Regions from separate parts of the Homo sapiens genome. Here region 1 is linked to region 2. Evidence: fine-mapped expression QTL. A gene starts in region 2. The other region holds a variant in brackets. All regions are shown on one strand. Distances are from middle to middle. Region 1 has its middle 9.1 kb from the start of TMEM128. Region 2 holds the start of ZBTB49 (zinc finger and BTB domain containing 49).

Evidence for each region. PIP is the estimated chance that this variant, and not a neighbour inherited with it, causes the effect.
Region 1: its variant is fine-mapped to the expression of ZBTB49 in subcutaneous fat (GTEx, PIP above 0.99).

What each region holds. Positions count from the first base shown.
Region 1 is chr4:4,254,651-4,260,024 of GRCh38, forward strand. No RefSeq gene overlaps it. Among named protein-coding and RNA genes, the nearest start is that of TMEM128, 9.1 kb to the left of the region's middle. RefSeq lists enhancers at 2,390-2,890, 4,872-5,166. The variant C/T (reference allele first, on the strand shown) is at 2,510.
Region 2 is chr4:4,287,455-4,292,828 of GRCh38, forward strand. It overlaps ZBTB49 (zinc finger and BTB domain containing 49), which reads left to right and starts at 2,797. Exons shown (of 8, transcript NM_145291.4): 1 at 2,797-2,898. It overlaps LYAR (Ly1 antibody reactive), which reads right to left and starts at 2,700. Exons shown (of 10, transcript NM_017816.3): 1 at 2,582-2,700. RefSeq lists enhancers at 649-1,187, 1,188-1,725.

The DNA of each region.
Region 1 (5,374 bases), 33 kb before region 2:
AGGGAGCTGGCCTTGATTGAGAGGCCAGGTGGGCAGGACCCTTGACTATGTAAGTGTCCCCAAGCACTCCTGAAATTTCTGGCTGTGCGGCAACATTTGGGTTCCAGTTCTGTGGGAGGACAATTTCTTTTATTAAATTGCTGCCATTCAGGTTGAGGGCCACTACCAGGCTGGCAAACCTAGAGGACAATGGAGGCGGGTCCTGGCCGACTGCCCTTCCCAGGCGAACCCTGCAGCCTTGTCAGTCTTGTCACTGGCTGATTGTTCGGTGCCTGGAACTTGGTCTGTTACTGCTTTGCAGATGATCAAATAAAGCAGACTCATTTTTTTCTCTTTCAAAAAAAACCCTATATATTTGAATGATGGCCGTGCCTGATATTACCATCCATAAAACCATGATAAAGGCTTTCTGATCACATGGCCCATCACGGAACCCGCTTAGAAAACCCTGTTGTTTTTAATTAAAACCCTACTTGCAAGATCTTTTTAATAGTGATCTAATCAGTACTGAGAAAGGGAAGGGGGAAACAAGAAGGGGGTCCTGACCAATGGAAAATGCTGGCCAGGAGAATACAAAGAAATCAAGGAGACACCTGTTGTGCCAAAACCCTATTGACTCCAATGTAGATACCGCCAGGTTCAACAAGCTAAAGAAGAGACCCAGAGCCAGAGCAAACGAGACATGGAGTGTTACATACAAGAGAGAGTCTGCTGGTGCAGGGCTGGCCTGGATAACTGCACCTGCTTTCGAAAGGCATGCAGCTTATATAGCATCTTCTTTTGACACCCACCCCTAACAACCTCCACGCTATCCCTAGCAACCTTCATGCAACCCAAAACTCAGGGCTTCAATATCCCCTGTACAGCTCGTGTTTCACAGGACAGGACAGGACAGGGGCTCAGATGACAAGGAAAGAATCTCTGGTTGGCCAGTCCCGGATTCCCTAATCTGGAACACACATTCAGGTGCATCTGCCATAAAGGTCATTCCCAGGGTCTGCTTAAGTTATTGCTATCAGATGCATTTACCATACAGCACCTGAGTTCAAATCAGTCCTGATTCTGCTACTTACCATGTGGCCTGGGACAAGTCACGTAAGCTCTCGGCACCTGCTCATCTATGAAGGGGGAGCAATAACGCCTCCCTCCTAGAGATTTTGAAAAGCTTAATGATACATGTAAAGGGCTTATTACTATGCCTGGCATATAGGAAGTACCCATGAAAGGGAACAATTCATATTAAAGTGGAATCCAGGCAGTGGGGAAAGGCTGCCCACGAAGGCCTCATGGTCACTCCCAGGGGAGCAGCAGCAGGTCATTGCAACGCGGCCTTGAAGGGGTGAGGCTGGTGGCCATGCCAGGAGAAAGAGGGCAGGAAGCAGTGGAAGAAAGGATGACTGTGGTGCAAACTGGCCATCATTTACCATGCCCCTCACGTGTTAACTACGCCATCCTCACAGCAGCTGGATGAGGCAGTTACTGTTATAATTCCTATTTCATACATGAGAAAATGGAGGCACCAGCCTTTTTTGTTATGAGATTCAAAGGAGCTTCTTTCAAGTATTCCTTTGCTATGAATGATTAAACTCTCCGTTTGGTAGTTTAATTACAATTACTGAGAAAATACCTACTTTGTCGGAGTTCAAAAGTCAGCCATCCCTCAGGTCTTTGCTCCGTAGGCTCAAAGCTAGGAAAGTGGGGGAGCTAGGATACTAACCCAAGCTTTCGGCTGCCAGGCTAAACTGCGTCTCATGACTCAAAGCACCTCAGGACATAAGCTATTTGTCAGTGTCAGAAGCCGGGTGTGGTGGCTCACACCTGTTATCATGGCACTTTGGGAGGCCGAGGTGGGCAGATCACCTGAGGTCAGGAGTTTGAGACCAGCCTGGCCAACATGGTGAAACCCCATCTCTACTAAAAATACAAAAATTAGCCAGGTGTGCTGGTGCACACCTGTAGTCCCAGCTACTCTGGAGGCTGAGGCAGGAGAATCGCTTGAACCTGGGAAGCGGAGGTTGCAGTGAGCCGAGATCGTACCACTGCACTCCAGCCTGGGCAACAGAGCTAGACTCCACCTCACAGAAAAGAAAGAAAGTCAGTGTCAGCTTCCAACCCAAGCTGGGGTCCGAGGGGAGTAGGTGGACCGGTGGCGGGTAGCTGAAAGAACACTCGAGGGATCTTATACAGGTGGGATATGGCTTTATTCTCTGTGTCAGCCTTTGTCTTGGCTGCCTGCTCAGCAGCCCCACTCAGTGCCAGCTCCACAGTCTGCAGCTGCACTCCCCAGTGTGCTCACCATTTCCTGGCTCCACCCACCCACCCCCACCTGCAAGGCAGCCAACTCCATTATGCATGCCTTCTCACAGTGTTCGTGATACATTTGTGCGCTTCACAGACAATAGCGGCTCAGAGCCAGGGGATGAGCCCACCCATAACATGGTTACATAACTGATTATATGCTGCACGGGATTGTGCACCTGCACTCCAATCCCACTGCGTCATGCTGCAC[C/T]GGATATTTACCTCGGCCCACTCTTGATGGCAGCGCAGCCATTTCCTTTTCCCTTCCCTGGGGCCATTCTTGCTGAATGCTGGCTCCATGGTGCTGGCCATCTCCATAGATGAGAAGCCAGGAGGGAAGATGTGGCAACCTGGGTGCCCCTTTCCACCCAGACCCGTGGCAGATGTTGCTGATCAAATGCAGCATTTATTTCCCTTTGACAGCCAGGTGGAAGCCTCAAAATCCTGAAGAGCACCGGAAAATCACTGCCAGTTGACTAGAGTTAGTTGTAGTGTCAGATAGAATCTATTTGCCATCCCTTGCTTGAGGGCTTAGGACATGCCCAATAATAGTACAGAAATTCAATAAGGTATTCGCCAACTGAGGGTCACTTTTATGCCAGTAAGAATCTGCATGTCATCCCCTTGAGAGACTCCACACCTCCTCATCAAGAAGTAGTGAAAATGACATCCGGGTGTGATTTCTCACAAAAGAGAAAGGAACGAAAGAAATTTTTTTTAATGTAAAAAGGAAAATCATACCATTTGACCCAGCAATCCCATTACTGGGTATATACTCAGGAATATAAATCATTGTATTATAAAGATACATGCACACATATGTTCATTGCAGCATTATTCAAAATAGCAAAGACTTGGAACCAACCCAAATGCCCATCAATGATAGACTGGAAAAAGAAAATGTGGTACATATACACCATGGAATACTATGCAGCCATCAAAAGGAACAAGAGAATATCCTCTGCAGGGACATGGATGAAGCTGAAAGCCATTATCCTCAGCAAACTAATGCAGAAACAGAAAACCAAACACCACATGTTCTCACTTACAAGTGGAAGCCGAACAATGAGAACACACGGACACAGAGAGGGGAACAACACACACTGGGGCCTACTGGAGGGCAGCGGTGGGGTTGGGGAGAACATTAGGGAAAGGAGCTAATGCATGCTGGGCTTCATACTTAGGTGATGGGATGATCTGTGCAGCAAACCACATGGCACATGTTTACCTATGCAACAAACGTACACATCCTGCACATGTACCCCAGAACGTATAAAAATAATTAAAAAAAAGAAAATCACAAACGTCAATGTGCAAACACATGTTTGAACACAGCGTATGAGGAAATCCCTCTGCCAACCTTAGAAAAATCAAAGTGTTGCCAGGAGCAGTGGCTCACGCCTGTAATCCCAGCACTTTGGGAGGCCAAGGCAGGTGGATCACCTGAGGTCAGGAGTTCGAGACCAGCCTGAACAACATGGAGAACCCCATCTCTACTAAAAATACAAAATTAGCCGGGCATGGTGGTGCATGCCGGTAATCCCAGCTACTCAGGAGCCTGAGGCAGAAGAACTGCTTGAACCCGGGAGGCAGGGGTTGTGGCTAGCCGAGACCGCGCCATTGCACTCCAGCCTCGGCAACAAGAGCAAAACTCTTTCTCAAAAAAAAAAGAAAGAAAGAAAGAAAGAAAGAAAGAAAAGAATAGACAAAGGAGAGAAACTGTCAGCCTTTCAAGACTGGCAACCGTGAGCAGAATGCCCAGCTGTGAGGGAAAGGACAACCATATTAGAATCCCAGCCTGGGTGCTGTGATGCGGCAAGAAGCAGACCTGACATTCAGGAACCGACACAGCACCTGGCACAAAGAGCCCCCAAGATACAGTAGCTAGGCCGGGCGCGGTGGCTCACGCCTGTAATCCCAGCAATTTGGGAGGCCGACGCGGGCAGATCACCTGAGGTCAGGAGTTCAAGACCAGCCTGGCCAACATGGCAAAACCCCGTCTCTACAAAACATACAAAAATTAGCCGGGCGTGGTGATGTGCCCTTGTAGTCCCAGCTACTCGGGAGTCTGAGTTACAAGAATCACTTGAACCTGGGAGGCAGAGGTTGCAGTGAGCTGATATCATGCCACTGTACTCCAGCCTGGGTGACAGTGAGACTCTGTCTCAAAAAAAAAAAAAAAAAAAAAAAAAAAAAAGATACAGTAGCTGCCATCATTACAATTGTCTTGAAGTTACTGCCTATCCCTATAGACCCACAACTCTCAAACTCATTCACACAGTAGAGTGCCAGGCACACTTTTGTAGAACATCATGAAATCTGGATAAATTAAGCAAAAAATAGCCAAGTGCTATAAATGTTTATGCCAGCTCTCCTAGCATCTAAATTAGAATCTCATGGCCACAGATGCCAAAAGGCTTAAGAGGTGTTACGCAGGGACACTAAAACTGAGAAATTCTATGACCTTAACTTTTTTCTGAAACCTGCAAGAGAGACTACCGTTTCAAGTTCAGCTGTATAATACCTCCCTGTTCAGTATAAAATCAGTCTGAGCGGGGCTATCCTATGACATTACTACTATAGTATCCTGATTCAAATTTGCTGCCAAATCCCCAAAGCCATGCTGTTAGCAACTGCTCAGTGGAACCGAATCTTTCCCTACCTTTGATCTACAATGGACAGAAGTCGGCCTGAGGTCACCGGGAAGGGAGGAGGGCAGCAAAGGTGGTATTTCAACAGCTCACAATACCCGCTCTGTGGCCAAACAAAGGCCTGACCTCCTGAGCGATGTGTGACCTTTAAACTCTGACAAACATATGTATTTACTCAGCAATTACAATTTAAACTACCCAAGGGGCAGTTTAATCACTTGTATCAGAGGGAATAAATTAAAGCTTCCCTAGATCCCATAACAGCAACAAGAAATGAAAGTAGCATTTGCACTCAAAAGAAAACAAAGAAACTTCTCTTTTCACCAGTACATACCATTTTTCTTTTTCTCAGAAATCGTCTGTGTTGTAATCGAGACAGACAGTGAGAAGCAGGGTCCAACCCCAAATTACAGAAGCTGTTAAAT
Region 2 (5,374 bases):
ATCACATGCCATACCCATGAAAAAGATGACGGGGTCTGCACCATAGAACACATGATCATTAGCTCTCTACAAAGCCGTGTCCCATTTATGAACACAACTGCCCCCAATACCACTAAGACTGCTATGATCATACTACCTCCATCTGGAGAGAAAACCTAAGGCTCAGGAGGGTAAGTGAACTGCCCGAAGTCACAGTAAGTGGCAGAGGTGGCCTGAAAGACCAGGCAGCAAGCCCAGGCTCCCACCCTGCCTCCATCTTGACCTGCCATGTCCTAGCCGTTTGCTTGGTGGTTACTCAGCACCTGGGACCTTGAGGTCCTCATCCAAAGAGAAAAAAAATTAAGGTCTCTATAAGATGACTTTCCATGTATAAATATTAGAACCCTAAGTCTTAATTATAAAACCTCTGTGCAGTGGGCAAGGAGACCACCCATGTCACAGGAGAGGCTGTCAGGGTCTGGACAGCAAAGCTAGCTGAGGGGCAGCAGCCAGTGGTCACTAAGGGGCTGGGAACTTGTTAGTCTTCTCTTAACAAGATGGTTGCCAGCTTTTGTTGGACAGGGCCCTGACTCAGGTGTAGAGGATCTGAGCTGGAGCCTACATCTGCTAATGTCAAAAAAGTCATTAAAAACTAAATGACCTCAAAGCACCTTAACTTCCCAGAATCTGTTTATCTGTAAAATGGATCTAATACCTAACTCAAAGCATTGGGTGGAAAGTTAAATAAGACACCAGATATGAAAGCTTCATCCCTGCCCAATTGTAGAAAGGTTTCTCTGTGACCTACTAATTTGCACATCAATGCTATTATACCCAGCCCCCTCCTAAACCCATGCTCCTTTAAATATGACCATCAACCCACCCATTTATGTTCATAAATTCACTCCAACCTTCTCTGGCTCCTCACCCCATGGCTGCCTACTTTACCAAGTTCCCTGATAACATGCCCTTAGGTTTGGTTCTGAGATTGGAATGATTTTTTTTAAATCTTCTTCCCTCTATATTTTTGTATTACTTATTCAATTTTTTTTCTTTTTTTTTTTTTTTTTGAGACGGAGTCTCATTCTGTTGCCCAGGCTGGAGTACAATGGCGCAATCTCGGCTCACTGCAGCCTTTGCCTCCCAGGTTCAAGTGATTCTCCGGCCTCAGCCTCCCCAGTAGCTGGGATTACAGGCACATGCCACCATGCCCGGCTAATTTTTGTATTTTTAGTAGAGACGGAGTTTCACCATGTTGGCCAGGCTGGTTGTGAACTCTTGACCTCAGGTGATCCACCCTCCTCGGCCTCCCAAAGTGCTCGGATGACAGGCACGGGCCACTGCGCTTGGCCTTGACTATTCTTAAAATATTCTTGCATGCACATGCAGACACTGACCTACACATCATTACCACCACTACCACTCAAACAGCCCACCTGAGGGGCCTAGCTGGCAACCCCAGGATATCCCCCACTGAACACTGTGACCCTGAGCATGCCACTGCCTCTATAAACTTCAAGTTATCTCATCTGTGAAACAAGAAGTCAGGCCAACTTGACAAGACTCAAGCCCCTTCCACGGGTAGCATTCTGAGAAACCATGGGTATGGTGCAAGAGAAGGACAGACAAACATACTCTGTCCACCATCCTGCCTAAACCTTTGTGTATGAGGCTGACAAGGGTTACAATGGGTGACATTCACAAGGAGAGAATCTCTCCCTTGTTCCTTGCAAAAGCCCTGGGAAGTAGGTGCACCTATCTCCACTAAACAGATGAGCAAACTGAGGCACAGAAGCCATTTCTCTCTGCCTCCTACCCCACCCACGGCATCACCAGCACTGTTTTAAACACCATCCCTTCACTCGAGTAACTACCATGTGTCAGGCACTATGCTAGACCCTGGGAGCCTCGGGCACAGTGTGAGTAAGTCCCAAGTGGGCCCTCTCTGCTAGAAATCAGGGTTGCAAATACAGACCCCACCTCATCCTCCTCCCTCTCTCCTCAGAGGTAGGTGCTTCAGAGAATCCTAACATTCATGGAGCACCCAAGCCCTCTCATAGGAGGTTAACACATTTCTACTCATGTAATCCTCATCACAGTTCTCCGAGTTAGATTCTATATGTTATGACAGATGAGGAAAGTGAGGCGCAAAGAGGTTAAAAAACTTACACCAGGTCATCCCACATCCAGGTAGTGGCAACCCAGATTCACACGCAGTAGTTATTCTGATCCTAAGTATGTGCTCTGGACCGCTACATCCTAAGGCCTCCTCTTTAGGGACTGATCTCCCAAGGCTCAGAGAAGAGCCCTGTCTCCAACATGCAGCAAGCCTGAAGCCCAGTCGGGCGGTGACCAATCGTCCTGGTTTGGCCAGGCCCGAGGGAGTTCCCAGGACGCCGGACCTTAAGTTTTAAAACTAAAACGAGTTGGTCACCCTAAGTCCAGGACTCCTGCCACTTCCCCAGAGCAGGAGTGAGATCTGAATGGAACTCCTTCCTCCATGCGTAACCCAGAGGGGCTGACGGTGGAAATCCCGTCCCTCCCCTACTCACTCTCTGAGCCCCAGCCTCCCAGGTCGGACCTCTGGGCCACCACCCCTCACCTCTCAGCCAGCGCCCGCCAACGGTTTCAACCGGCCGCGGGGAGCACGTGGACTCGCCGCCGCCAGCCCAGCGCCGCAGCTACCTGCCTCTCAGGCTTCGCGGTGCAGAATTCGCTTCTGAACCACCCAGCGCGCCTGCGCACCGCGGCCACGCCCCCCCCAGTGGAAGTGACGCCAACGGAAGCAGGAAGGCGGTTCCGGCAAGCCAAGGGGGCGTTGTCGTGATGATTCCGCGGCCAGCGGATCGCTGCGAGTGGCCTTGAAGGCAGCTGCTGCAGGTGAAGAGTAGGCGGCGGGGCAGAGAGCGGCCTCCGAGGGTAAGGTGGCCGGCCTTGCGAAGGCGTGCGGGGCTGGCGCTGGTGGGAATGGCCCGGAAGGGAAGGGAGGCCGGGCGCCCGAAGGTGGCCCAGAAGGGCATGGACCCACCGCTCCTTCCCGTCTCTGGGCACTCGAGGATACCCGGGGGGTTGGCGGCTCCTGCGAGAGTCAGCGAGCATTTGCTCTGTGCCGGGCATCACAGGGGACGCGGACTGAGACCCAGACGGCCAGGTTCCGGGCCTGGGAGCCGGGCCTTCTCCCTGGTGCAGCTTCCTCGGCCTGGAAACCCCACCCGCGCCCTCTCATCTCCAGGCTTTGCCCGCTGGAAGCCAGCCCGGCCCGCCTCCGCTACGCGCTGCCCATCTCTCGGCTTCTGTTTCCTTCCACGCTGTAGTTGAGAGTAGCGCTTAAGACGACAGAGCCCACAGCCTAGCTCAGTTTCATTACGGTGTGGCCTCTTTGTGCCTCAGCCCCGCATCTGTAAAGCGAATGTCATAGCGGCACCTGCGTCCCTGGAACCTTGTCGTATTTCATGAGTTGGTGCATGTAAATCGCTTAGACTAGTGGCTGCCACTTAGTAAGTACTCAATAAACGTTAGCTCTTCTCAGCCCTTAAAACAGGGTCTGGCACACAGTGGTGGTCACTAGGTGTTTGTTGCTTAAATGAATGAATGAAAGTTGAGTGGAGGATGCACAGAGTATTGTGAGAAACCTTCACTCCCAAGGTGTGTGTATATGGGTGATAAGGTTTCACTCTGAAAGTGAGCAGTGTTGGGCCTGGAATAGAAGGTGTATTAGTTTGCTAGGACTGCAAACAAAATACTGGGTGGCTTAAACAACAGAAATTTATTATTTTCTCACAGTTCTGGAGGTTAGAAGTCCAAGATCAAGGTGTCTTCAGGTTTGGTTTCTTCTGAGACATTTCTCCTTGGCTTGCACGTGGCTGCTTTCTTGCTGTGTCCTCGCATGGTCTTTCCTCTGTGTTTTCACATCTCTGGCGTCTCTCTTTGCATCCAGATTTCCTCTTTATGAGAACGTCAGTCAGGTTGTATTAGGGCCCACCTTAATGGCCTCATTTTAACTTAATTACCTTCTTACAAGCCTGATCTCCAAATACAATCACATTCTGGAGTGCTGGGGGAACAGTTTAACCATAACAGAAGGAATTCACAGAAATGGACAAGGAGGGAAATACTTTCCAACAGAAGTGACAGAATGGCCAGGAGGCTTAAAAGCAGGGTGCTCAAGATGTTTTTTGTGTTCAGGGCACATATGTGTACTTCAGTCTTGTTTGTGCTCTCGTACTGTTTTTGGGTTTGGTTGTTGTTGTTTGTTTGTTTGTCCTCCTGAATACTCAAAGAAAGTGAGCCCTCTCATTTTTTTAGTCTGGCAAACTTAACTCACATTTCAGCATAGATGTGTCTTCCAGGAAGTTTTCCCTGACCCTCCCTCCCAAATTAATTTCTGCTTCCTCCATTTAATAACTTTGGTACAGGGCTGGGTGCGGTGGCTCACGCCTGTAATCCCAGCGCTTTGGGAGGCCGAGGCAGGCAGCTCCTGAGGTCAAGAGATAGAGACCAGCCTGGCCAACATGGTGAAACCCTGTAAACCCCATCTCTACTAAGAGTACCAAAATTAGGCGGGTGTGGTGGCGCATGCCTGTAATCCCAGCACTTTGGGAGGCTGAGGCGAGTGGATCATTTGAGGTCAGGAGTTTGACACCAGCCTGGCCAACATGGTGAGACCCCCACCCCTCGTCCTTACTAAAAATACAAAAATTAGCTGGGTGTGGTGGTGCATGCCTGTAATCCCAGCTACTCGGGAGGCTGAGGCAGAAGAATCGCTTGAACCCAGGAGGTGGAGGTTGCACTGAGCCGAAAGCACACCACTCCACTCCAGCCTGGTCAACTGAGCAAGACTGCGTCTCGGAAAAAAATAAAAAATAACTCTGGTACAGTGCAACGATACTTGTTTTTCCCACTAGACTGATGCTTCATGAAGACATGGATGACCGTATCTGATGTGTTTGCCATCGTACCTTCAGTGCCTAGCGCATAATGGGCATTGTGTAAAGTTAAGTGAATGATGGAAAACTGAGACACAGAGCCTGTGAAGAGTAGGGAACACATCTGTTCCGTTTGTCAGCATTCCATCCTCGCGACAATCTGTTGCACATGTTAGGCACACAGTATCTGTTTAACCCAATTGGCCTTCCCAGTATGATAAGAGTCAGCATAAAGCTAAGACAAGATTCCAGGTTTGTTGCTTCAAGCCAGTGCTTTTATGAGTAGGGTGGAGGTGAGGAGCTACAAGTAAGCCATTTGGAAAGTATGATGATGGGCAGACTCCTTAGGAGCCCTCTGAGGTAAGCTTGACTTTAAGGTGCGTGAACTGTGGGCCCTTGGAGAAGTAATCTATTAATGGCACTGCTGAAAAAACATCCACAAATTCTATCCAGTAGTATTTGACCTGTTG